Homo sapiens: one gene and its partners. The protein of the gene in region 7 purifies or fractionates together with the protein of the main gene of each other region. This does not show direct contact. Each region holds a gene or a part of one and is shown on either strand. Other genes may lie near its edges. The genes, in order: SLC25A31, MOCS1, OPA3, RMDN1, ZNF518B, STK39 and CHCHD4.

Region 1 (4,187 bases), on a different chromosome or scaffold from region 7:
TAGTAAACTTCTGAACAGAAGAAAGTACGATCTTTTTTCTACTTCCTTATATGGTAGCTGCATTACTGGAATCAGTGTATACTAAAATCATGCCCCAGACAATGTGTTTATAAGTAAATCAGAGTTAAGTTATTTCTAGGCTTAGAGAAACATAAACAGGTTTCACTGCTACACGAAAATCGAAGGGGAGATCTAAAAGTCATTCAGGTTGCGGGATAAATCTTCATCATGTATGACTGGCCTGCATATAGCAGCAGGACGTTTAACATTCCTGGCCCTTGCCTTTCATACCATTGTAAAGTAGGATTATACCCCTCTATCTTTGTGCTAAATAAAAAAAAATTGCCCCACAAGTTTCCGAAATTGCCTCTAGATGGCAATAGTATCCTTGTAAATTACTGATCTCTTAGCATAGGATACACCATGGTACCTTCATAAAGCTTTATATATAATAGAAAACATCTTCAAGTTCTACTTATGATCCTCTCATCTTGGAACTTAAAGCAAGGACCAGGATACATCTGAGAATGATATCAACTTACAAGGGCCATATTGAATACGTTTAGGTTTAAATATTGTGAAAAACATTTAAAATATGAAATAAATTAGCACTAGTCAGCCCTATCTGACCAGAATACTTCATTTTACCTGACAAAATATTTGAAGCAGAAAAGCTAATAATAGAGAGGCCCCTACTTCTCTTCAGAAGTCTTAGAATATAAACGAAGAAGAGACAGGTTCCTTGCTTTTCCTGAAAAAATCTTGGGGGAAATGAGAAGCTTGCTTTAATTAAATGAATGAGTGGAGAGAGGCAAACTATGAAAGACCTGAGCTTAGCTCCCAGATGATGCATTAAGTTTCTACCCCTGACCCCATATACTCCACGCCACAGGTCTGGAAGAGTTGTAACCACATCCCTAGCATTCCTAGGGTACAAGGTGCTTTTTTAAATGGGACAGTATCTGGCCCTAGAACAGGACTAAAAGAAAGGTCTGCACTGGAGTTGAAGCCACTTCATTTCTTGAGAATACACAATAAATGTCTATTTCTTTTTAAAAGATCATACAGATTTTTCTATTGAATCCAACTATATGGGTGGATTATATAAAATATCTGATAGACTTATCCCTTTAGCTAACTTGGGAGCCATTTTGCAGCAATGGTTCACAAAGCACTTTCGTTATTTCTTTAAATCATTCCAATATTAATAGAAAAAATCAATGATGAACAAAAATGAAATTTTAAATAAGGACAGTGCTTGATGCAAAAAGAAAAACTGGTAATACTGATCCCATCTTTATTTTAAACTTGTATATATTGTGTTTGTTATGAATTCTTTTGCATGACTTGATTTTTAAAAGATTGCATTAAAATAGTTTAAAGTTTTTTTTTTTTCCTGTTTTTAGGAGTGGAGGTTTAATAGAAAAAATAAAGAGAAAGGAGAACAGCTCTCTCTCTAGTTGAAAGAGAGGGGCTTCGGAAACGGAAGGACCCTAAAGTTTTGTTTGTTTTTTTGAGACAGGGTCTCACTCCTTCATCCAGGCTGGAGTGCGGTGGCGCGATCTGGGCTCCCTGAAATCCCCGCATCAGGGTCCCGCAAGTAGCTGGGACTGCAGGCGTGCGCCACCACGCCCGGCTAATTTTTGTATATTTAGCATAGACTGGGTTTCGCCATGTTAGTCAGGCTTGTCTAGAACTCCTGAGCTCGAGCTCAAGTGATCCGCCCGCCTCGGCCTTCCAAAGTGCTAGGATTATAGGCGTGAGCCACCGCGCCTGGCCTTAAAATACTTTTTATCTTGATGACTGAGGGTTGGGTTTTTTTTTTTTAGGGCCCCCTTGAATTTTGGGCAGAACGAAGTACCCCCTTGGTCTTCAGTAGAATAAGCAGAACCTCTTTTCACTAATAGGTTTCAGAGTACTGGTAAGCCCTAGTGCTCCCATATTTGTACTTCTCTTAGACATACTATTTCAACAAATATACATATAGATTTTGACTCAAGGTCTCCTCTGTCGCCCATGCTGGAGCATAGTGGGGTGATTATACCAACAAATATTTAAGCAACTTAGAGCACTAGTTATAGCAGAGTGCCTAATGGCATCTCCCTCAATCCTGGGAGGTCAACCACTCTCCTTCTGGACCTGGCACAGGTGCACCAAGGTGTAAATCGCACTGCAGATTTAGAGAAAGAGAAGGCAGTGGTCTCCCCGGTACCAGGACTTGGTCAGGACCAACGCGGCCCTGGAAAAGCAGAGCCTGTTAGGTTCAGAAACTAAATTCTGGAAGGGTAAGAAGCAAATTCATCACCGACAGCTGTAGCTGTGGTTGTGGGGCCCACAATCATGCCCCTCCCAGCCACCCTCTTCTCTGGGAAGCTGACGAGGGCGCCGGGAGAGGCTGTCGGGGCGGCCTGCCTTGACGCACCCTGCTCGCGAGGAATCCGCACCAGGCAGTCCACCATGCCTTTGTACCGCGCCTCGGGGCTGATCTGCTTCGACGACGCCTGCACCTGCAGCAGCAGCTTCACCCGCTCGATGGGCGCCACCGCTGTCTTGGACACAGCTGCCGCGACTCCGCCGGCCAGAAGGTCCTTCCCGAAGGATGAGGCGTCAAACAGCCGCTTTTCTGCCTTCTTTTTCGCAGGCTCACGATGCATGATGGAGAAGGATATAAAAACCGGCAGCAGTGGCTAAAAATGAGTACGGGAGCTACGATGAAGGGAAGCGGAAAACCGGAAAACCGCTGCAGCATCGTACTGGCGAGAAAGTGGCTCTTGGGACGCTGAGAGAGCCGCGCGCCGGCGAGGCGCGTGCGGAAAAGCTGCGCAGGCGCTCCAACGGCCTCCAGCCACGTGACGCCTGACACGTGACACCTGACACGTGACTCCTGACACGTGGCTCCTGGATGCGCGGTGACGCCTGCGCACTTCTACGAGCGGAGCCTGGGCTTTCTGATGAGGGAGGGGTCCGGAGGCGGTGAGCATTGAGCAGGAAAGGCGAGGGGAGGGGCCGAGGAGAGCCAGTTCTGTGTGAAGAAATTTAGTAGCTGAGACTAGGCCAGAGCAGTAAACCAGCGGTGTGAGATTAACAGAATTTAGTTTTAGTTCCTAGTGTTACCCCCTTCACTTTCTTAATCGCTTTAATCCGTTACGTTTTTTTTGACCAGAGATGGTTCCTTTGACCTTTCTTGGCATCTTAAAAAAGACAGTCTTACCTGTTGTGTGATTCAAGTGATGTTCCCCTTAAATTTCACCCTATGTGCCTGTTAATGCTTCAAATTCCCTTGGAAATTGCTTTAATCTGTTCCTTTAATTAAGCAGGGATCCTTTGTCTAGTCACTTTCTGTGTCGTTTTGATGATTGTGCCCCCATAGCATAATACATGTTCCTCTTTTTCATATTGTATTTAAATTGATAATATCCAGAGCAGTGGTTCTCAATCCAGACTGCACATTCAAGGGGATGAGGGGTGTTTTGTTTTGTTTTTCAAATTGATGCTTGGGATTAGGCCCTGCACATTAAATCAGAACGTCTAGAAGTGAGGCCTGGCATCAGTATTTAAATTCTCCAGGTAATTCTAGTGTTTGAAGTAATTCTAATTCTAGGGTTGAGGGCCAATGACCTATCTAGAAGAGTAGTTCACAAACTTTTCGATTGCAGGACCCCTCTTTTTCACTCTGAAAAATTATTGAAGGCCAGGTACCAGTAATCCCAAAACTTTGGGCCAAGTCCAGCCTGGGCAACATAGTGAGACCCCTCCTTTACAAAAAAAAAAATAGCTGGGCGTGGCTGCACAAGCCTGTAGTCCTAAGTATAGCTACTTAGGAGGCTAAGACAGGAGAAATGCTTGAGCCCTGGAGTTGTAGGCTGCAGTGAGTTATTATCTCACCACTGTGCTCCAGCCTGGGCAACAGAGCAGGACCCTGTCTCTTAAAAAAAATTATTGAAGACACAATGAAGCTTCCGTTTTTATTATGTATATTGGCATTTACCACTCAGAAATTAAAACACGATTTAAAAATATTTAATTCATTTAAAATAAAAATAATCCATTACAGGATAGCATAAGTACGACTTTTAAATAAAAAATGTAGTAGAAAAATAGTATTGTTTTATATTTTTGAATCTCTAATGTCTGATTTAATAAAAGACAGCTAGATTCACATTACTGCTTTTGCATTCAGTCTGTTG
Region 2 (3,397 bases), on a different chromosome or scaffold from region 7:
GAGCTGGGCCTACTCTCAGCTGCCTATCTTCTGCCTTTCACTTGCATCCAACTCCTGGGGCTGGGACCGTAGTAGCTGCGGGGGGGAAGAAACACAGGGTCGGTGAGCCCAGCATGTGCGTTGGTTTGAGGGGGCGGGCGGTGTGTGTGTGTTCTGGTGGGAGGGATCTGAGCAAGTGCAAGCCTGGCTGACACAGGTGTGAAGAGGCCATCCTGGAACCCAGGTGAGGGCAAGATGAAGGCTTCCAGGCAGAACAGCTGCAGAGAGTTTGGCTATATGCATCTGCAGCCCCAAGAGCTCCCACTGCAAGACAAGTGTTGGGGAAGATGGGAGGTTGTGGGTGAGGCCTCTAAAGGTCCTCTCCCAAACTGACCAGGCTGATGTCAACCTAACCCCCTCAGGGGCAGGGAACAGGGGAGGGCTCCACAAGCGTGTCTGGCATTCCCACCCACCATGGAAGACTGGATACGCACCTGGAAACAAAAGGACTATGGAAGCTGTTCAAGATACATTTGATCTTCAGAAAAGCAGAATTTGGTTCAACTGTTGACAGAGGACACAAATACGTTGTTCCAGAGCTCAGCCTTCTCACTCTAAAAGAAAGATATTTTTCTATTTATTTTCTACATCTGGCCAGTGGCTCTGGTGCTAGATGCCACTGTAGCCAGATCTCCAACAGTGCCTTGGACCATGGACTCATACTCAACTGAGTAAGAAGGGGCTGGTGCCCAGTCGGGGTGGCTGAGCTGGTCCTTAATAGGTTGTTTCTTGGTCTTGCTTTCTTCATGCCCTCCCCACTGCTCCTGCCACCTTTAGATAAGTTTCTCTAGCTAATTTTGTGGCCAATGTAAAATTCGTCATCAACCTAACAAACACAACCTTCTCAGCAGCATTTCTCCCCTGTGATGGAAATAAAGTGTTTAGGGCAGTGGGAGGAGAAAATTCTCCAGGTGAATGGGGAAGGGTCTGTTCCAGCCTCTCCCTACTCCCATCCCATTTCCACCAACTGGGGAACTGTGACTATCTATCTCCCCCGACTTCTACCAGGGATGCCTTCACGCCAAGGCTGTTCTCACCAGCTGCCTCAGATGACAAATGAGGCTAATGGACATAATCTACAGTGTCCTTTTTCACTTGCACCTTTTTTATAAGAATATATTGTAATACTAAAAAATATTAAATTCATACCATCCCTACCCAGTCTGCCTTTAAACTTGTGCCTTCTTCCTATGAGGGGATCTGGGGTGGGCTGAGAGTGTGCTGGAGCCAGCTTGTACCAGCTCTGTGAGAACCAATTGTTTACATTTTCAGAAATTTTGCAAGCCATTTGACATACTGGTAGCTTGAAATTATTCAACATGGGAGTATTTATATCACAAATTGTCTTTTCCAGAGAGCTGGTTGTTTAATATTTGCCAGCACACCTTGGCATAGGGCAGAGGGGAGGCAGGCAGGGGGCACCACTGAGGACTCAAAGACATCCAAGTTAGAGAGCCCAGCAGGCCAGAACTGTGTGTGTTTGGGATGTGAGAACCAGGAGCCTCTAATTAATTGCCCTCTCTGATCTCTCTAATAGCTGGTAATGCAAGCAATGAGCTTTGAACACCCCTGGCCACCACCTGACAAAAGATTTCCCTTAGATGGTGCATTTCTATGCCCCCTACTCCACTTTATTTTCCCATAGCGGGGCTATACAGAGAGTACACCCTTAGGCCTTTCCAGGTCCCTCCTCTTCTTCCCTCAGGGAACTGTGTCTTGGGATAGGATTGATTGATTGATTGATAGGTGCAGCCTTCCCTGTGAAACTGCAGCAGCTCAGTGCCCTACCCACACAGTGTCTTCATTCTTGCATCTGCAAAGTTGGCATCGTAGCTTTATTTGTGCGCTGTGAGGGTGAAGGCAATCTATCATCAACTTTTCTTTCCCTGATATGCTCCAGAATAAAGAGGGGTGGGTGGAACAGCCGTGAACAGGGCCAGGTGTGGGCTGTGTGGTCTGGCAGGAGTCCTTAGGGCTATGGCCCATGTGTGCACATCCTGTTTCAGAAGAGGGGGGCCAGAGGAAAAGGGGCCAGCAGGACCGGGCAACTGTTAAGCTGAAAGGCTGCAAGTCTGATGGGACACAGACTTGGGCAGAAGGAGAGATGAAGTCAGGACAGGACAGGACAGGGCAGGGCTGCGGCTTCACAGACTTAGGGAGGCAGAGCTGCCGGGGAGAAGTTGGGATCCATTCTTCAGGCAAGCTTGTGCTTTGCTCTCCTCAAAGTGGGCTCCTCTGCTTAATGAGCGCTTAATCTCTCCCCAGGAAAGCAGGAGAAGAGAAAACCCAAAATGAGAAGGAAAAGTTCTGGGCTGGACTGTCGGAACCTGGTTGTCTGAAATAGTCCACAAAGAACATGATTTCTCAGTTATCTGGCATTGCTTGTTGCAGTCCCGCTCCCACGACCTTAGTGTCCTGGAAGGCTTAAGGGCCTGCTGGTATCCTCCCTATAGAAAGGAAGCCCCATTGGTCATTAGAGATCATCTAGCAGCAGGCCTGTTTGTTAGTAGTAGAGCAGGCTGACTTCGGGTTTACTGCTCAAGGTAAACAAACAGTGACTGTGATTAAAGGAACCTGACGTCTTTCCCTCAGCCTACATTGCATCCCAGCTCCAGGCCTGGGTGGGCCATGGGTGAGAAGGGCAGGTGCTAAGCCCGATGGAAGTCCCCCCGCTGACCACCAGTCTTGCTAATGAGCTTGATCTCCTCCAACACGATGTCCCTGCTGACAGCCTTGCACATGTCATACAGGGTGAGGGCGGCCACTGCAGCAGAGGTCAGGGCCTCCATCTCCACCCCGGTGGGGCCCCGAGCCCGGCAAGATGCCTGGATCTTCACGGCATGGCGTGTGCTGTCCAGCTCCAGCTGCACCTGGATGTGGCTCAGGGCCACGTGGTGGCACAGAGGGATCAGCTGGCTGGTCACCTTGGCTGCCTGGACTCCAGCCAGCTGGGCCACCACTAGGGCATCTCCTTTCTTGAGCTGGTTCTGCTGGACAAGCTTGAAGGCTACCGGTCCCAGGAGGACCACGGCTGAAGCCACAGCCACCCGCTCTGTGTCTGGCTTCCTGCCCACATCTACCATAGCTGCCCGTCCTTCCGAGTCCACATGAGTTAGTTGTTCTGAGGTTAGCTGGGGTCCTGAGGGGGCAGCAGAAGCCCAGGAACCTGGGCTAAGGCACTTTGAGTTGGCATCTGAGTCTGCACGGGAAGTGTAGTGTCTCTGAAAGGAGCCAGACCCCAGCCGCTGCTGGGCTAGAGGAGGGGTCTGGGGGACCCTGCATCCTTTCCATAAAGTGGCCACCTGGCTGGAGAAACTCATTCTGGGTCTTAGACCCTGAACATGGAGCGGGTCCCAGG
Region 3 (4,015 bases), on a different chromosome or scaffold from region 7:
TGGTCAGGCTGGTCTCGAACTCCTGACCTCATGATCCACCCACCTCGGCCTCCCAAAGTGCTGGAATTACAGACGTGAGCCACCGCGCCCCAGCCAGGAGTCTTACCATTACTCAAATCAGTCTCCCTGAGCATTCAGGGAGATTTTATTTTTATTTTATTTTATTTTTTTTTTTTGAGATGGATTTTCACTCTTTCGCCTGGGCTGGAATGAAGTGACGCGATCTTGGCTCACTGCAACCTCCATCCCCGGGTTCAAGCGATTCTCATGCTCCAGCCTCCCGAGTAGCTGGGATTATAGGCGCCCGCCACCAAGCCCGCCTAACTTTTGTATTTTTAGTAGAGACGGGGTTTGACCATGCTGGCCAGGCTGGTTGCAAACTCCTGACCTCAGGTGCTCCACCCCCCTCAGCCTTCCAAAGTGCTAGGATTACAGATGCGAGCCAATGGGCCCAGCTGGAGCAGAGTTTTTTTGTTTTTTGTTTTTGTTTTGAGACGGAGTCTCGGTCTGTCGCCCAGGCTGGAGTGTAGTGGTGCGATCTCGGTGGAGCAGAGTTTTTAAGGATAACTTGATGGGTGAGGGGAAGCCAGTGAGCCAGGAGTGCTGATTGGTCAGAGATGAAATCACAGGGAGTCGGAGCTGTCTTCTTGCGCTCAGTCAGTTCCTGGGTTGGGGGGCCACAAGATCAGATGGGCCAGTTTATTGATCTGGGTAAGGCCAGCTGATCCATCAAGTGCAGGGTCTGTGAAATATCTCAAGCACTGATCTTAGGAGCAGTTTAGGGAGGGTCAGAATCTTGTACCCTCCAGCTGCATGACTCCTAAACCATAATTTCTAATCTTGTGGCTAATGTTAGTCCTACAAAGGCAATCCAGTCGCCAGACAAGAAGGAGGTCTGCTTTGGGAAAGGGCTGTTACCATGTTTGTTTAAACTATAAACTACAAACTAAATCTCTCCCAAAGTTAGTTCAGCCTTTGCCCAGGAATGAACAAGGATAGCTTGGAGGTTAGAAGCAAGATGGAGTAAGTTAACTTAGATCTCTTTCGCTGTGTCAGTCATAATTTTGCAAAGGCGGTTTCAGTGGTTCTCTGACCCAGCCAATGATGCTAAATTCCCTTATTTTATGTCCCACGTAGCACAACACAGATCACCTTTTTTTTTTTTGGAGACGGAGTCTTGCTCCGTCACCCAGGCTGGAGTACAGTGTTACGATCTCGGCTCACTGCAAGCTCCGCCTTCCGGGTTCACGCCATTCTCCTGCCTCAGCCTCCTGAGTAGCTGGGACCACAGGCGCCCAGCCACCACGCCCGGCTAATTTTTTTGTATTTTTAGTAGAGATGGGGTTTCACCGTGTTAGCCAGGATGGTCTCCATCTTCTGACCTCGTGATCTGCCCACCTCGGCCTCCCAAAGTGCTGGGATTACAGGCGTGAGCCACCGCGCCCGGCAAGATCACCTTTTTAAAGTAGTTTATATTTTGGGTGTTTACTAAGCCCTTTATTTCTATTTATTATTTTTTGAGACAGTCTTGCTGTGTCGCCCAGGCTGGAGTGCAATGGCACAATCTAGGCTCACTGCAGCCTCCACCTACCAGGTTCAAGCGATTCCCCTGCCTCAGCCTCCCAAGTAGCTGGGATTACAGGTGTGCGCCACCACACCCAGCTAATTTTTGTATTTTTAGTACAGACCGGGTTTCACTATGTTGGCCAGGCTGGTCTCGAACTCCTGGCCTCATGTGATCCGCCCGCCTCGGCCTCCCAAAGTGCTGGTATTACAGGTGTGAGCCACCGCGCCGGACCTTACTATGCCCTTTAGATCTGAGCTCGGGCGGCCCCCTCTAGGCAGCCCTGCTGGCCTCAGGTCCCTGGGTCAGCCAGTTCCTCTGAGCTCCGGGGCTCCCACTTTCCCGACCACTCTGGGTTGACAGTGATGGATCAGGAGTATATCTCCCAGTGCTGAGCAAAAAGGCCGCATAGTCTGTCAACCGAATGAAAGGACGGCGTATGAGCGCATTAATGAGTACACAGATGAATGTCCTCTCTGGCTCAAAGTCCTTTTCCGGATTCCCAGGCCATGTCTCCAGAACCCAGACTTCACCCCCGAACCATGCCCCTAATCCAGACTTATTGACTACAGTAAAACTGAGGCACGTCGACGTCCTAAACGGAGGATATACAAGCACCTCCTAGATCAGTGGGGAAACTGAGGCACACGGTGCCGCTTTTGAAATGAAGTTGCCCAAGGACAGCCGGGCAAAGGACCCCGTCCGGTTTCTCCTCAGCCCCTCCCCTAGCTCCTCTATCCTGGAAAGCCCCGTCCAAATTTCTCCCATCTCTCACACTATTGGTTTAACAGGGCATCAGTCTCCAAGCGCTCTCTTCCTTTATCGGCTGGCATTTCCTACTCGCGTGGTGGCTCCTTGACCCGCCCCTTACGCCCCGCCCCGCCCTCACTACTGGGCCACCCGTACGCCCCTCTATCAGAAACCCCCCACTATTGGCCACTGGACTTTGCCGGTTCGGGCTGTGATTGGTCGTAGACAGAAGTCCATCCCCTAAGCAACCACCTGACAGGGGTTGGAGAAAGGAAAAAGGTTGGAGGGAATTCGGGTCAGACTCACGTTGAGCCGGCGGGAGGCAGATATAGGTCTTGAAGAACTCGCTTCGGCGGGCGGCCTCCTTAATACGGTTGGCAAGCGGCTTGCTGACCTGCCGGATGCCCAAGTATAGCAGCTTCGCCATAGGGAACGCGCCCACCACCATCTTGGCGGTCTCACAGGGCACGCGCAACCTTGCTGACTGGGCGGGGCGCCTCAACCTCTTCACTCCTCCCCCGCCCTCTCGTGGCCATGCGTGCGTCAGTACGTATGTACGTACGCTCGAGGGAAACTTCAGAGGCGCATCCTGACGTCACCCCGTCGACGCTGGCGTAGCGACGTCCGTTCGCTGAATATGCAAATATACACGGAAGTGAGGCGGGTCAGGGGGCGGTGCCGTTAAACGGATGCTGGAAGGCGTGTGGATTCCCACGCCCGCCTTGGCCAACGTCACTGTACTCCTTCGTGATGTCACGTTCCGAGTTGGCGTCCCCACCCAAAGGAGGCTCTTAATTAGTCCTAATTAGTCCTATGAGCCCCAAATACACCTTCCTCTGCAAGCTAGGGCTCTCATTGGGATTAAGAGGAAGCCGCGCGGTCATACAGACTTTGGCTGGGATCCCAGCTCTGCCATTTCCTCGCTGTGTAATATTAGATGAGTGGCATAACCTCTCTGGACTTCAGTATTACCGTCTACCAAATGGGAATCCTAATAGCAGTTGCCTCTTTGGGTTGTTGTGAGGCTTCTATGCTAATCTTGAGTGTAAAACAGTGGACCATGGGAAGTGGTTAGAATGGTGCCATTCATATAGTTAAGCGCTCAGTAAATAGCCCTTCTTACTATACAGGTCATGATTGCATTATTAATGCTAAATCCAGCCTGAGGGTGCATTTCACCCCCAGAAGCAGCGAATCCAACCCTTTCCCAAGTAACTGACAAGGAAACTGAGGCCCAGAGCAGGGCAGGGGGTGGCACAAGGTTCCTGCAGAGGTTGATAGCCTGGCATCTTGGCCAATAAAACCATACCCGTTCTCAAGCAACCCAACTTCCTTCATTAGGAGGTAGGTTCCCCAGGGAGCTAGTTCAGAAATAAATTTAAGGACATGTCCCAGACTGTCCTTTCTTACCCAGCAGGGAGTAAAATCATATAAACAATGTCAGGAAGGGGTTGAGAGAAATTCCTGGATGATGGAGTGCTGATGGGTAATTGAGAGATTCTCGGAGGCAGAGGGACAGAAGAAAACAGGAACAGAGGACTGGCCGCCATGGCTCACGCCTGTAATCCCAGCACTTTGGGAGGCTGAGGAGGGTGGATCACCTGAGGTCAGGAGTTTGAGACCAACCTGGCTAACATCGTGAAATCCCATCTCCACTAAAAAAAAAAAAAAATTTAGCCGGGCATGGTGGCGGGCACCTGT
Region 4 (3,500 bases), on a different chromosome or scaffold from region 7:
AGAGCAATATCATATGAAGAAATTAATGAGTGAAGCTTTTTTGTTTTTTACAATCCTCACTTTTTAATTATAAAGGAGAGGGTGATTGGGGAAAGAAGCAGAGATTTGATTTTGAATAGATGGTCTTATTCAACTTCTGATAGAAGAATTTGAGAACATGATCTAAAGATTGCTAGTTATCTATTGATTTCATTTATCTGTGATTATCTTTCCGTTAAAAAAGCAGATAATTGAGAAGCCCTGCACTGTTCTTTTTTTTTTTTTTTAAATGTATTTATGAAGAAGGACAAAGCAGAGAACTTGGTTTTGTTACTGGCTGAATGATTTATTTTGGCAAATACTTAAAATAATTCATCTTTTTAAAGCAACCTAGACTTTAATTCTCACAGCAGCCTTATAAAATAGTTAGGACAAGTCTTATTATCTTATCACATTATAATAATTTTTGAAAAGAAGTTCACAGAGTTAAACTTGAAAGTCAAAATGTTAGAGTGGAGATTAGAACTTATTTTTTTTTTGAGACAGGGTCTCACTCTGATGCTTAGGCCACAGTGGCATGATCACAACTCGCTGTAGCCTCTACCTCCCCGGGCCCGGGTGATTCTCCCACCTCAGCCTCACAAGTAGCTGAGACTACAGATGCACACCACCATGCCTGCCTAATTTTTGTATTTTTTGTAGAGACGAGGTTTCACCATGTTGTCTGGGCTGGTCTTGAACTCCTAGGCTCAAGCAATCCACCTGCCTCAGCCTCCCAAAGTGCTGAGATTACAGGCATTAGCCACGACACCCAGCTCCTTATCTCTATTTCTTCTTTGAATCTATCACATTTAGTTTCAGTGTATTTTGGTAGCATTATAGAAATGATTGTAAAGATGTAGTGCTTTCTGAAGTAACAAAATTCAGTACTTTGAAAGGGAAAACCAGAATTACTTTTGGCTTTATCATAGTCCATTTTTTTCTTGTTTATTTTTTTTCCAACTTTTATTTTAGATTCAGAGGGTACACGTGCAGGTTTGTCACGTGGGTAAATTATGTGTTGCTGGAATTCGGTGTACAAGTGATTTTGTCACCCAGGTAGTGAGCATTGTACCCAGTAGGTAGCTTTTTGACACTCGCCTACCTCCTGCCCTCCCCATTCTAGTAGGCCCCAGCGTCTATTGTTCTTGTCTTTGTGTCCATGTGTACTCAGTGTTTAGTGCCCAGTTAACAAGTGAAAACATGCAGTATTTGGTTTTCTGTTCCCATATTAATTTGCTTGGGATAATGGCCTGCAGCTGCATCCATGTTGCAGCAATGGATGTGATTTGGGTTTTTTTAAAAATGGCTTTATAGTATTCCATGGTGTGTATGTATCACATTTTCTTTATCCAGTTCACCATTGATGGGCATCTCAGTTGATTGCATGTGTTTGCTAATGTGAACAGTGCAGTGATGAACTTAAGGACGTGTGTGTCACTTTGGTAGAACAATTTGTTTTTCTTTGGGTATATTCTCAGTAGTGGGATTGGTGGATCAAGTAGTGGTTCTATTTTAAGTTTTTTTAAAGAAATCTCCAAACTGCTTTCTACGGTGGCTGAACTAATTTATATTCCCACCAGCAGTGTATAAGTATTCCCTTTTCTCCACAACCTCACCAGCATCTTTTTTTTTTTTAATTATTTTTTTTTGAAATTTTAAGAATAGCCATTCTAAGTGGTATGAGATGGTATCTCATTCTGGTTTTGATTTGCATTTCTGTGGTGATAGTGATGTGAAACATTTTTTCATGTTTATTGGCTGCTGCTTGTATGTCTTTTTTTGAGAAGTGTTCATGTCTTTTGCCCATTTTTTAGTGGGATTGTTTTTTGCTTGTTCAATTGTTTTAAGTTCCCTATAGATTCTGGATATTAGACCTTTGTCAGATGCATAGTTTGCAAATGTTTTCTTTCATTCAGTAGGTTGTCTGTTTAAGAAACCTGTCGATAGTTTCTTTTGCTATATAGAAGCTCTTTAGTTAGGTCCCATTTACCTATTTTTGTTTTTGTTAGAATTACTTTTGGAGACTTTGCCATGAAATCTTTGCCAGGGCCTATGTCCAGAATGGTGTTTCCTAGGTTTTCTTCTAGGTTTTTATAGTTGTAGGTCTTATATTTAAGTCTTTAATCCATTTTGAGTTGATTTTGTATATGGTGAAAGGGGTCTAGTTTCTATCTTCTGCATATGGCTAGGCAGTTATCCCAGCACCATTTATTGAATAGGGATTCTTTTCTCCATTGCTTGTTATGGTCAGCTTTTTTGAAGGTCAGATAGTTGTAGATGTGCAGCTTTATTTCTGAGTTCTCTAACCTGTTCCATGGCCTATGTGTCAGTTTTTGTACCAGTATAATGCCGTTTGGGTTACTGTCTCGTAGTATAGTTTGAAGTCAGGTAGTGTGATGCCTACAGCTTTGTTATTTTTGCTTAGGATCGCCTTGGCTATTTGGGCTCTTTTTTGGTTCCATACAAATTTTAGAGTAGTTTTTTGTAACTCTGTGAAAGATGATATTGGTAGTTTGACAGGAATAACAAATAAGAATCTGTAAATTGCTTTGGGCAGTAAGACCATTTTATCAATATTGATTCTTCCTGTCCATGAGCATGGAATGTTTTTCCATTTGTTTCTGTCATCTCTGATTTCCTTTTCATTGTGGTAAAACATCTAACTGTATTCCTAAGTATTTTATTATTTTTGTGGCTCTTATGAATGGGGTTGCGTTTTTTATTTGGCTCTCAGCTTGGGTGTTATTGGTGTATAGAAATGTACTGATTTTCATACATTGATTTTGTAACCTGCAAGTTTACTGAAGCTGTTTATTAGTTCCAGGAGCCTTTGAGCAGACTGTTTATGGGGTTTTCTAGGTAAAGAATCATATCATCTGTAAGGAGAGATGGTTTGAGTTCCTTTCTTTCTATTTGGATGCCTTTCCTTTCTTTCTCTTGACTGATTGCTTTGGCTAGGACTTCCAGTACTATATTTAAAAGGAGTGGTAAGAGTGGGCATCCTTGTCTTGTTCCATTTTTCAAGGAGAATGCTTCCAGCTTTTGCACATTCAGTTGTTGGCTGTGGGTTTGTCATAGATAGCTCTTATTATTTTGAGGTGCGTTCCTTCAGTGCTTAGTTTGTTGATGTTTTTTAAGGTAAAGCGATGTTGAATTTTATCAAAAGCCTTTTCTGTGTCTTTTGAGATGATCATGTGGTTTTTGTTTTGTTTTTAGTTCTGTTTCTGTGATGAATCCCATTTATTGATCTGCATGTTGAACCAACCTTGCATCTCAAGAATAAAGCCTACTTTTGTGGTGTATTATCTTTTCAATGTGCTGCTGGATTCAGTTTGCAAATACTTTTTTGAGGATTTTTATGTTTATATTCTTTTTTCTTTTTCTTAAGACAGGGTCTCACTCTGTCACCCATGCTGGAGTGCAGTAGTGCAATCTTGGCTCACTGCAACCTCCGCCTCCCAGGCTCAAGTGATCCTCCC
Region 5 (3,500 bases), on a different chromosome or scaffold from region 7:
TCTGTGCTTGAAACACCCCTTTTCCAGCAGCCACAATGCTCACTGTGGTTGCCCCCAGGTCTCTGCTCAGACATGAACTTAGCATGAGGCCTCTCCTGACTCTCCTCACCTCCACACCCAGCCCCGCAACCTCATCACCGTGGTCTTCCCTGTCCTGTTGGCCTTGCTTTTTTCCCAAGTATCTTACCACCATTGGCAAATATGTAATCTGTTTCCCCCTGTGCAGTGTGTGCATCACCAGGAGAGGGACTGATTTGCTTTCATTCACTACCTTACAGCACTTTTGAATAATGCCCAGCACATAGTAGATTCCCAATAAGATGCTGCAGCAGGCTTGCTAACATTGTCAGTATTATGGGCTTCTTAGCACTCATGAAGGCAAATTAAGCATGTAAGTGAGAGAGTTGGTATTCAAGCTGATAATAAGCTATAATGTAGAAACAAATGTGAACACCCCAGGCCAAAGCCCTAGCTCTACCACTTGATAACTAACTTGTTCAAAAATTGAACTGACAGTGTCCTGTATAACATTTTTGTGAAGGTAATATGAAATTATACCTATGAAAGATGTGCTCACTGACACTTGAAAATGACTTTCCCTGACCAAAGGCTGTCCTGAATGGCTGCTATGATGTCCTTGTTCCTGGTATATCTGTGTTCATTCATGATTTGGCTAAAGTGGTCATTTATAGGGGGCTGAGTTTGAAAATGTTTTCAATTTAGGCTTACTTGCCAACTCTGTTGTGTTATTGTTATAACATGCGTCTAAAATCATACGTTGAGATTTACCATAAAATGTCCAAGGCCATTAAAATATAGGATAAGTTTGTTAATAGCTTAGCCAAACTCTTATATTAATCATGCTTTATAATTTTGTTTTCCTTTAGTGTTACCTGGAATGTCAGAGAGCTGAAAGCAGTCATATTTTGGGATCATGCACCTACTGCGGCAGTATATAAAGAAAGATAATTAAGTATGCACCCAAGAAGTAGCTGCGCCCCTACCCATCACAAACTGTATAGAAGGATATCTCCTAAGGATTTTATCATGTGAAAACTTTCTGAATTTTAGTTGGCTCTTTTTAGAAATGCAGATAAGATGAAGGATATTGGACAGCAGCTATACACTACACACTTGAACGGCGGACATAATTCCTTGACCATGTCACCCAAACAGCCTGATGCTAATGGAGCACCTCGGCCAAATAGACAAGAAGCACAAACCCTTTTGTATCAAGGCTCAGAGGCAGAGGCTGCCATGATGACCATTGCTACATGTGCAAAGTGCAAAAGTGTTCACAAGATCTCTCTTCAAGATTTGCAGAAGGGTACAGGGAAGGACGGTATGTATGTCTGCTTCCAGTGCAGCCTCGGTGCAGCTCCTCCCAATTTTCATTTTGTGAGCAATAATTCCAGTGCGACTCATGTTGGAAATAAAACTGAAAACTTCTCAAGTTCTGTCAATAGCAAATTTAAGGTAAGGAACTTTAAGCCAGGCAAATACTATTGTGATAAATGTCGATTCTCTACAAAGGACCCGCTGCAGTACAAAAAGCACACCCTTCAACACGAGGAGATTAAATTCATTTGTTCTCACTGCAGCTACATTTCGTATACGAAAGGAGAGTTTCAGAGGCATTTGGTGAAACACACAGGCATATTTCCTTATCAGTGTGAGTATTGTGACTATGGTGCTATTAGAAATGATTATATTGTCAAACACACGAAGAGAGTACATGAAAGGGCAGGTGCGAAACGGCCAGTCAAAGCTGTTGCCAAGCTGGAGCCAAAAAGAACCGGAACTTCAAAACAAAACCCAGAGCTTCTAAAAGCTTCCAATCCACGGACTACATTTCAAAATAAGTGGTCAGACCAACTGTCAGGTTTCTCTCTCCATGCAAATAAAGACAAAATGCACAATATCATGTTGTTACCTGAACCAAAGGAATACCAAAAAGATGTAGTTTGTATTCCAAATAAAATGACCCTGTCTGAGCCAAATGAAGTCAACCTATTTGAGAACAAAAATGTTGAAGTAGAAGTGTTATCCCCTGCAAAAGAACCTGTTCAGCCAGGTATGCCATTGACAGTTGTTGCACCAGCAGAACTAGTTGTCCCTGCAAACTGTTTAGCCCAGTTGATAGATGTGAAGGTTGTCAATGGTACACAGCAGCTTGTTCTGAAACTGTTTCCGCTGGAAGAAAATAATTGCCTTGAAGCTGGGAGGGATAATGGAGGTAATTCTGAACGTATGGTGAAAGAGAAGGGTTCAAATGAACAAGAAAAAGTACTTTCTGCAGAAAAAACAAAGTCACTGACAGTTGACGGGAATGTTGGAAAACTCGTAGGCATTGATAGTTTTCAACCTTCAGTTCAGAAACAGCTTAAAAATGTGAAATGGGTAAGGTCTTATGATTTTATTATGCCAAATTCTAGTGTGCACAACAATGGAAAATCCTTCATTAATTCGGAAACAATTGAGGATTTTCAGAAAAAAAATAATTTGTATCCACATAGAACTGCTTTTCCTTCCGTTGCCTTAAAAGGTCATTCTCTAGCATCTGTATTTAAAAACAGTGTTTTACGTAGTCTTGGAGCTGCATCAAACCCTTTTCCATATAAAGCTGCTGTTTGTTTTGCTGAAAGTGGAAGAAATTTACACAGTAGCTCACAGCAGTTACTCCCATTTGCTGCATCACCTGCAACCTGTTCCTTCTCTGGAGAAAAGGGCTTATTGCCTGTAAGTGAAAATGACTTGGAATCTACAAGTAAAGTCAATATTCCTGTAAAAGTGGTTTCCTCTAATAGGAAGCAGGAAGATAACCAGACAGAGGAACACAAGGCAGTTTCAACTGTAGGCCAGATTTCCTCTCAACATAAGAGTGAGTATTTACATATAAACATAACTGGAGAAGATAGATCTCAACAGCCTGGGGATAAGCCTTTGGAATTAAAGAATTCTGAAAGGACTAACAACACTAATGATGGCCCAGTCATCTCATCAGTATTTTCTCTGAGCTCTGGATCTGAAAATGTCCCCGAGGGCATTAAGTGGAATAGCTCAACGTCTAAAATAAAGTCAATTGAACTGTTGCGCAGAAAGATAGCTCAGTTAATTGAGTCCTGTGGGAAGCCGTCATCTTTGGCTTCAAATAGTGCACATCGTCGCTCTGTAGGGCAGGCATCAAAGGGAACTTCAAAAGCTACCTCTGAAGGTATTCAAGAAATCAACGTGTCACTCACTGGTCTTGGCCATTCCACAGGTACTCTTCAGAAACCTCCGAATGATGGTGGTATTACTGGTAATAGACAGCTTACTCATCAACAAATATATCCACACTTTGCAGATGGCAGTAATAGGAAAACCAAAAGCAGAGTGGCCAGGAAGGCTCATGTTGCCACGCCAGTGTTAATCCCCAAAGGGGCTGTGTTGAGGGTTCTTAATTCCTCTGAGAATGCCCACATCATAGAGGCTACATGTGAAGCACCTGTCAGCATACC
Region 6 (3,500 bases), on a different chromosome or scaffold from region 7:
CTTATTATTTTGAGATACGTCCCATCAATACCTAATTTATTGAGAGTTTTTAGCATGAAGGGTTGGAGCCTGGGATTCTAAGGACTTTGGGACCATAGGCAAGTTTCTTCAACTTTGGCCATTAGAGAGTTTTCAGTTACAAGACAAAGCAGCTGGGATGGATTTTTTTTCCTTTGGTCTCTTCTAAAATTAAATTTCCTAATTCTCTCTATATTCTTGTACCACTTCTCACTTAGGAACTCACTTATAAAAACCAGCCATGACCTGCCATTCCTTCCCCAGGAAACCCCGTCTGCTGCTCCTCTTCCTTTGCTTTCTTGAGTCACCCCATAATTAAACAAACAGAGATAGTGACATTGCCTGAGAGAAAGAAAGAGAACCAGATGATTCAAATTAAAATCTAAGCTACACAGGATAGGTCAATAGGCACCAACCTACCCAAAATGTAATCCTTTTTCAATCCCCAGACTAAACAGAGTAGGAAATAAAGCAGTTGGAATACCCTTAGTACAAACTCTGGTTCAAACTGATGCAACCAGTTCAAAACAAAATCATTACTTCTTCTAAGACCCCAACCATCCACAGAATGATTATGAGAAGTCTCACAACTGTCACAGGTCACTGGCTCCAAAATACTCCCTGAATGAAGATCTATCATTCACAGGGCAGAAAGTCATCCACCTCTACTTTCCATCTAGTTTTTTCTGACAAATAGCTCCAGTGGTAACTAAAAGTTAGAAACCTAAACCCATAAATGTCAATAAAATGTATATTTTTTACCTAAGGGAAGAATCACATGAGCACCCCCAATACTAGGCTTCTGAGAGTTATACTAAATGCCACTTACCTGGAAGAAGTTTGAAAATAAAGTCAGGGATAATATGAATGTAGAGGTCTCTACCATTTCTATCTTAAAATGTTTTCCCATATATCAAAATACACAATCAGTTTAAAAGGTCAATTAATCTCAATCCTCAATGTCCAAGAAGTTTCTTAAAGCTAAGCCAGAGTTTATTCTCAAATAACTGTTTGGCAAGTGAGAAGAAATGTGAAACATATCATTTACTCACATCGGATTCCAAAGTATTTATCTAAATCGACTCTAGAAATAAAGTATGCCAATCCATTCTCTAAAGGATTTTTCTCTTCTGCTTTTCAGTTAAGCCAAGTCTGAAATGACTTTTTAATTAATATATTGAATTCTTGTCTAGTATCAAAAACTTGGCCAATTGATGGCAGATAGGGAAAAAAGAAACACTTGAATCACTTCAACTAAGAGCTGTTTTGGTATAATCTAAACACAACTATCCTAGAGGAAAACGTATGACTTCACATGATTACATGGAGAATTTTATTTAAATAGGAAAAAAAAACTTTCCCAAAAAGTACACTGTAAAGGAATTATAACATCTATTAGAATGACCCGGTTCTATGGTCTTAGCAGGTACCACAGCCATCCTATCATGTCAGTCCCTTATAAGTTATAAAAATAGAACTCCTGCCATCCTAACAACCTTTGAAAGCCACTTGTTCTGCAATTCTGCTCCTGTGTTTCACCTGCATCCCTGATCGTCTCCAGCAGCCCTGATTCCTACACAGGAAGAGGCTCCACAGAACTTCAAGGTGAGTGTTATATATAAATACATGAACAGCAAGAGAGAGAGATCACTGATATACAAAAGAAAAGAAAGCTCTAGAGCTTTTGAAGGGCAGTGTGGGACTTCCCCACTCCACCCTACAATGTCTACGGATGCCAGAACTGTGGCAGGGAGCTCTGGGTCCTTTAATCCAGCCAGAAAGGCCACCTCTCAGTCCTAAGACCTCAGGAGAGCCAGGCCTCTGCCTGCCTACCTCCACAACACAGGCAGGTGGACGCACTCAAAGTGCTTACTCTTGATCTGTGAGGATTAATGAGCTAATTTCTACAGAGCCCTTTAAGCTGATTGGCCCAAACGCAACTAAATAAACCCCATCATTAACCACGGGCAAGATCAAATCCTCAGGATCCAGTGAGGCAAATTTTTAGACGTCAGGCAATGTTCCTCCTCCACAAGGTGAGGAAGGAGTATTTATCCCCAAAACTCAGAACTTCATCCAGAAAACATTTATTAAATATCTATTATGACATGCAGGGTAGGGAGATGAGAGACCCTGTCCTCAAGGAAGACTTAACAGTCTAGAGCCAGGCTGGCAAGGAAAATACAATTTGCAGATAGTGTGACAACTGCCAGGGAGCGAAAGACCCAACAGAGCCTGAAGGGCAAGGGGGGAGGGGGGCTCTAGAGGCAGAGATTGTTTGTGTGACAAGAAATCACTTGTTCAGGGTATGAGAAGAGAGGCCCAGTCAGGGTGCTGGTTACATGGTGTGTTCAATTCATGAACATGCACCAAGATATACATTTTTTATATGTACACTTTTCCACATGCATATTATACTTCAATAAGGGCAATATTTAAAAGAAAAGACAGAGCTCTTTGCTACATAGATGAAAAATGGAAGGGAAGGGTCTTGGAATGGTGTTCCAAGCAGAGGGAAATCTTGCCTAGAAGAGGCATTTCAGCAACTGCAAAAGGTTCCCACTGGCTGGAGAGTCTGTCCTGAGACTGGAAATTACAAGATGTGGCTGAAAAGGGAGGCAAGAGACAATTCCCAAAAGACCTTAAACACTGTGCTTCAAATTAAGTCTTGAGGGTGACGGGAGAGCTACTAAAGGCATTTCAGCCTGGGAGCAACGTGATCAAGAATTTTGGTATAGCAGTATCTTTCTGGTAGCAATGCACACTACAGCCAGAAACAAGAATGGAAAAAAGGAACCTGGTTAGGAAATTATTACAATAATCCAAATAAGAATCGATAAGGGCCTGAACTAAACCAGTGGTGGCTGACATGAAGAGTCAGAGTCAAATCAAAGAAGATCTCAAGGAGGTGGAGTATTTAGGACTTGGTGACCAAACAGATGTGAGAGATGGACAAAGACAGGAAAGTATAGGATGGCCAGCAGGTTTTGCCCTTGAGGGCTCTAAAGATGATGAATATAGAAGAAACAAGATTAGGACTGAGGCCAGGGTGGAGAGACAATGAGTTTAACTGTATGAAGTTCCTGTGAAACATTCAAACGAAGACATTAAAAAGGTAGTCCAAACACTGGTATACAGTCAGGAAGACCCTCAGCATTTGATGTGGTAATTGAAGCTTCAGACAGACAGAGATGTGGATCTGGGGCAGGCAAGGGAGTACAGGAAGTCCAGAAGGAAGGCATGGCATGGAAGCTCAAGCAAATGCCTTTCCAAAAGGAGAATGAAAGATGGCACCTAACCCTGCAGAGAGCAGAGAAAAGGACTGCAGTGTCCACTGGCTCTGGCCACAGAAGAGTCACAGTGATTTCAGAGAGTAACTTGGGTTTCTTAGGGAAAGGGCAGAAGCCAGACTGCAGTGGGCTGAGAGGGAATGGGAGGTTCCTTCCAACAATTTAGCAGTGAAAGGAAGAAACGAGATAACC
Region 7 (3,500 bases):
CTAAGGCCTGAAGTTCCAGTCTCTGGCTGAGTCAGTCTCCGCCCCCGCCCAGGCCCCCAGTTTTCTCATTGGATCAGATGATCTTTAAGGCCCTCTTGATGTTTTGATTCTAGGAAAATTAATTCTGCCACCTTTTTTCTTGGTACTCTTAGCTATTCCAAGCACCATCTCAGCTGCAGAGCTGGATGCTGGAAGGCAGGTAGATGGCATAAAATGGTGGCTTACTTGGTCCACTTACTAATTTTGCAGTTTAAGAGCTTGAAACTTGGGTCCCAGAGTTCTTTGCGTTTTATAGGCTTCTTTTTACAAAGTATTCACTATAAGGGGCTGTAAAGCCAAATGCATCATATGGTATACCTACTATCCAAGCAGATACATTGCAAGTGACAGAAGCAGGTAAAAAAAAACAACAGGGACAGGAAAGAATGGTGGGATCTGGAGGGGGCAGACCAGTCTAAAGGCAGATACGTACTGCTTTTAATAACACTGTGAGGCAAACAAAACAAGGCCCGATTTGTCCTGCAGGCCTCCACAGTCTTGATCAATTAATGAAATGTGCTTAATATGGATCTAAAGATAAGCAAGGTACTAGAATTGACATGTAAGCCCTGATCAAGATTACCCTTGCAGCTGTCTTTCTCAGAATGCTAACACTTTGTATAACGTCTGCATTTCCCACTGCTCCCACTGGGTGCTGGATATGTATTTTATGCTTTAACCCCTAGGAGCAGTCAGGGCAACAAGTGAAGGGTCCTACAAGGAATATACACACATCAGTTAGCATTTGAGAAATTCCAATCAGGAGCCCATATTCTCGAGGCGGCTGCTTCAAGCTCTTCAATTACCAGTTAGCACTAGAAGATTAGTTGTCATCATGGACATCAGAAGTGGTTTTTGATTGGTGAAGTGACTACTGTACAATACGTAGATTGTTCATGGACACTGCACACACACATCCACCTCACACGGTCTGCAGTAGTAAGTATCTAGTGAGTTTAGCAGCCCAAATCCTTTGGAACAATGTCCTAGGCCTAAGCGACCACTGTTATATTCAGCCATTAACCAAGGAGTGAGCAACAGCTCTGACTAGGTTAGCTGACTCCTGCTGCTAGAAAGCTGTCTGTGGCAAGTGACCTTTTCATGTAAGGTGCTTGCTGGAGCAGTTAGAGACAGCAGGGACTTCACCAACCTTACAGAACAAGGTGAATGACTGTCTACTTGCTAATAAAGTTGGTAGATGTGGCAGAATTCAGTCTGGCAACTTGTCTGAGCAAAAGCCCTGTCACCTTAACCTACCTATAACTGCTGGAATCTACTAATACCCTCTCCCAAAACTTAGCTGTTGTGCCAGGGAAGTACATCAGAACAAGGCTGGAAAGCACAGTCCCTCAAACCTCTGAGGAAGATAAACCACTGCCCTCAGAGATGGTCTATGGCTGAGAATAGATACCTGAAAACTTGGCCTTGGCTAGGAAAACATGGGAAAGGAATTAAGAACACTGAGCTTCTCCCCAGTGCCCTGGTGTGGGTCCCTGGGAGGCCACATGTCACTCACCATGCTCCTCGTATGGATCGTTGGGGTCATCAGCCACCAATTCTGCACTGCTTGGAGTTTCATGATCTTCTTTGGTTACAAATATGATTCGATCCTTCCCTAGTGTTTGGAGAACAGAGGAAGAAATATTTCATTCAAGAGCAGTGAATCAGCTTTAAACCCAAAGCAGCCGCCACACAAACCAAGTTTGAAGACTCTCCCATATGCCATCCCTATGTGAGGTGACTATCAAACTGCTCTCATATGCTAGGGGTAGCAAACAAAAGCGGATGGATAAGGGGCAGGGCAGGAAAAGAAGCACTGAAGAAAAAGAGTGTCCTGGGGTTGACCCACAGGGTTCAGAATGCATAAAAGTTGAAGGAAGACTGAGCACATTGGCAAAGTGAGTGTGCAGTGATGTGGGTCCTCAGCCTACAGATCACTGCAGCCCACATAGCTGATGCGGCCACAGGCCCCTGCCTCTGAAAGGCTGAGGACACAGGTGGTCTGAGAGGGACCACAGCCAGCACCCCCACTAGGCCTCTGGGCTCCTAATCGTGGCCGGAAGAAGGAAGGGTCATAAGGTGAGGAACACTGCAGCCGTTCCACTCCCCACAGTCCAAGAGGCCGGGGGACCATTTCCCAACAAGTATAATAACTGGAGGGGGGCAGTGGGAGGAGCACTTCTCAGATCTTTTTAACTGTGACCATCTGCAGTTTATTTTTTTAGGACAAACCCAACAGTGGTTAGGGTCAGGACTGTGGTCCTGTGAGGACCAGCATGGGAAAGCCAGCAGGCCTAAAGTGCAGAGCACCTTGTTCACAACCAGAGCCCTCACCCTGGGGCCTGGCTGCCGGAAGGTCTGAGGGCTCCAGGAAAACAGACCAGTGAGAGTCAAATGCATTTTATATTAGGAGCTTCTCCTCACTGGAGGCTGGGTGAGCACAGAAAAGCACATCAGTCCTGGCCAAACCAGGGTGGGTGCATTCACTGCCTTAGAGTGACCCCCTATGAAGTATTATCACCCTCAGCCCCCATGGAGTACAACAGAAAACCAAGGCTGAGTTAAGCAGAAGGGAGGTCCTTACAGCCCTCTCTGCTACACCTTGTAGCTGTCAACACTTTACCTCACCTCCCTAAAAACTTTGGCCATCAGCTAACCACACCACAGGTATGTGTCAGATATTCCCATTGTGGGCAAGGAGCACCTTGTCCTCAGTACCCCACACTGCACGGTGGGTCATCAGTTTCTCCAGCTGTCCCCAGAGAACAGACAGAGCCAGTCCATCTTTTGGTCCTCCGTGTGAGCTCATTCCTCCATCCTATCGCCACCCTGAGAGGGAGGTAGCAGCATCCCCTTTTAATGGTGGTGAGCCTGAGGCTGTGAGTAGTAACTTGCTGGGCCACACAGGACAGGATGCTCTGAAGTCTACACTGTTGGAGATCCTTTCTACACACCCATACTGCCCCGCACCAACATTTGCACAAGAATAATCGACAGCTGACACTGAGCACTTAGCATGACTGGGCACTGCCTGAGAGCTTGTGCACCTTGGGCAATGAATAAATACAATAAATTCTGACCCAACCTCGGCCCCAAAAAGCTTAGAACCAAGTGAAATGTTTGCCAAGTAAACAAACAAGATCTTTCTTGTACTTTCCTGGTGAAGGTGAATGACAAATTCTACAGACCAACTGACCATGCATTCTGATCCTAGAAGATCTGGGGTACTGGGACCCTCATCTGGAAGGGGATAGGAGGTGCCAAGCATTTAAGAAGACTTCTTCAGGTATGGCCAAAAGTGCCTGGCAGAGAGCCACAGTGCATGGCTCTGAGTGAGTGGCCACTGTGGGCGCAGAGGCCGGACCTGCAGAAACGTGGCCCTGTGAAAGCTGCGGGCATCTCTGATCACTTTATACTTTTTGTTTATATTTAGAAAAGTTCAGTCACAGCTATGCTGAGGG

What was found.
Region 1: the proteins of CHCHD4 (region 7) and SLC25A31 purify together in Homo sapiens (affinity purification with mass spectrometry; one large-scale study listed by BioGRID and IntAct). This does not show direct contact.
Region 2: the proteins of CHCHD4 (region 7) and MOCS1 purify together in Homo sapiens (co-immunoprecipitation; 2 studies listed by BioGRID and IntAct, with this or other methods). This does not show direct contact.
Region 3: the proteins of CHCHD4 (region 7) and OPA3 purify together in Homo sapiens (co-immunoprecipitation; one large-scale study listed by IntAct). This does not show direct contact.
Region 4: the proteins of CHCHD4 (region 7) and RMDN1 purify together in Homo sapiens (co-immunoprecipitation; one large-scale study listed by IntAct). This does not show direct contact.
Region 5: the proteins of CHCHD4 (region 7) and ZNF518B purify together in Homo sapiens (affinity purification with mass spectrometry; one large-scale study listed by BioGRID and IntAct). This does not show direct contact.
Region 6: the proteins of CHCHD4 (region 7) and STK39 purify together in Homo sapiens (affinity purification with mass spectrometry; one large-scale study listed by BioGRID and IntAct). This does not show direct contact.

What each region holds. Positions count from the first base shown.
Region 1 is NC_000004.12:127,729,013-127,733,199, reverse strand, and holds the start of SLC25A31 (ADP/ATP translocase 4), read right to left. Parts: upstream 2,801-4,187; 5' UTR 2,655-2,800; coding exon 2,423-2,654; intron 1-2,422. UniProt on the Homo sapiens protein: ADP:ATP antiporter that mediates import of ADP into the mitochondrial matrix for ATP synthesis, and export of ATP out to fuel the cell.
Region 2 is NC_000006.12:39,903,670-39,907,066, forward strand, and holds the end of MOCS1 (molybdenum cofactor biosynthesis protein 1), read right to left. Parts: coding exon 2,688-3,397; 3' UTR 501-2,687; downstream 1-500. UniProt on the Homo sapiens protein: Isoform MOCS1A and isoform MOCS1B probably form a complex that catalyzes the conversion of 5'-GTP to cyclic pyranopterin monophosphate (cPMP).
Region 3 is NC_000019.10:45,582,003-45,586,017, forward strand, and holds the start of OPA3 (optic atrophy 3 protein), read right to left. Parts: upstream 2,801-4,015; 5' UTR 2,763-2,800; coding exon 2,621-2,762; intron 1-2,620. UniProt on the Homo sapiens protein: May play some role in mitochondrial processes.
Region 4 is NC_000008.11:86,498,687-86,502,186, reverse strand, and holds part of RMDN1 (regulator of microtubule dynamics protein 1), read left to right. Parts: intron 1-3,500.
Region 5 is NC_000004.12:10,443,927-10,447,426, reverse strand, and holds part of ZNF518B (zinc finger protein 518B), read left to right. Parts: intron 1-887; 5' UTR 888-1,098; coding exon 1,099-3,500. UniProt on the Homo sapiens protein: Through its association with the EHMT1-EHMT2/G9A and PRC2/EED-EZH2 histone methyltransferase complexes may function in gene silencing, regulating repressive post-translational methylation of histone tails at promoters of target genes.
Region 6 is NC_000002.12:168,237,596-168,241,095, forward strand, and holds part of STK39 (STE20/SPS1-related proline-alanine-rich protein kinase), read right to left. Parts: intron 1-3,500. UniProt on the Homo sapiens protein: Effector serine/threonine-protein kinase component of the WNK-SPAK/OSR1 kinase cascade, which is involved in various processes, such as ion transport, response to hypertonic stress and blood pressure.
Region 7 is NC_000003.12:14,114,871-14,118,370, forward strand, and holds part of CHCHD4 (mitochondrial intermembrane space import and assembly protein 40), read right to left. Parts: intron 1,655-3,500; coding exon 1,556-1,654; intron 1-1,555.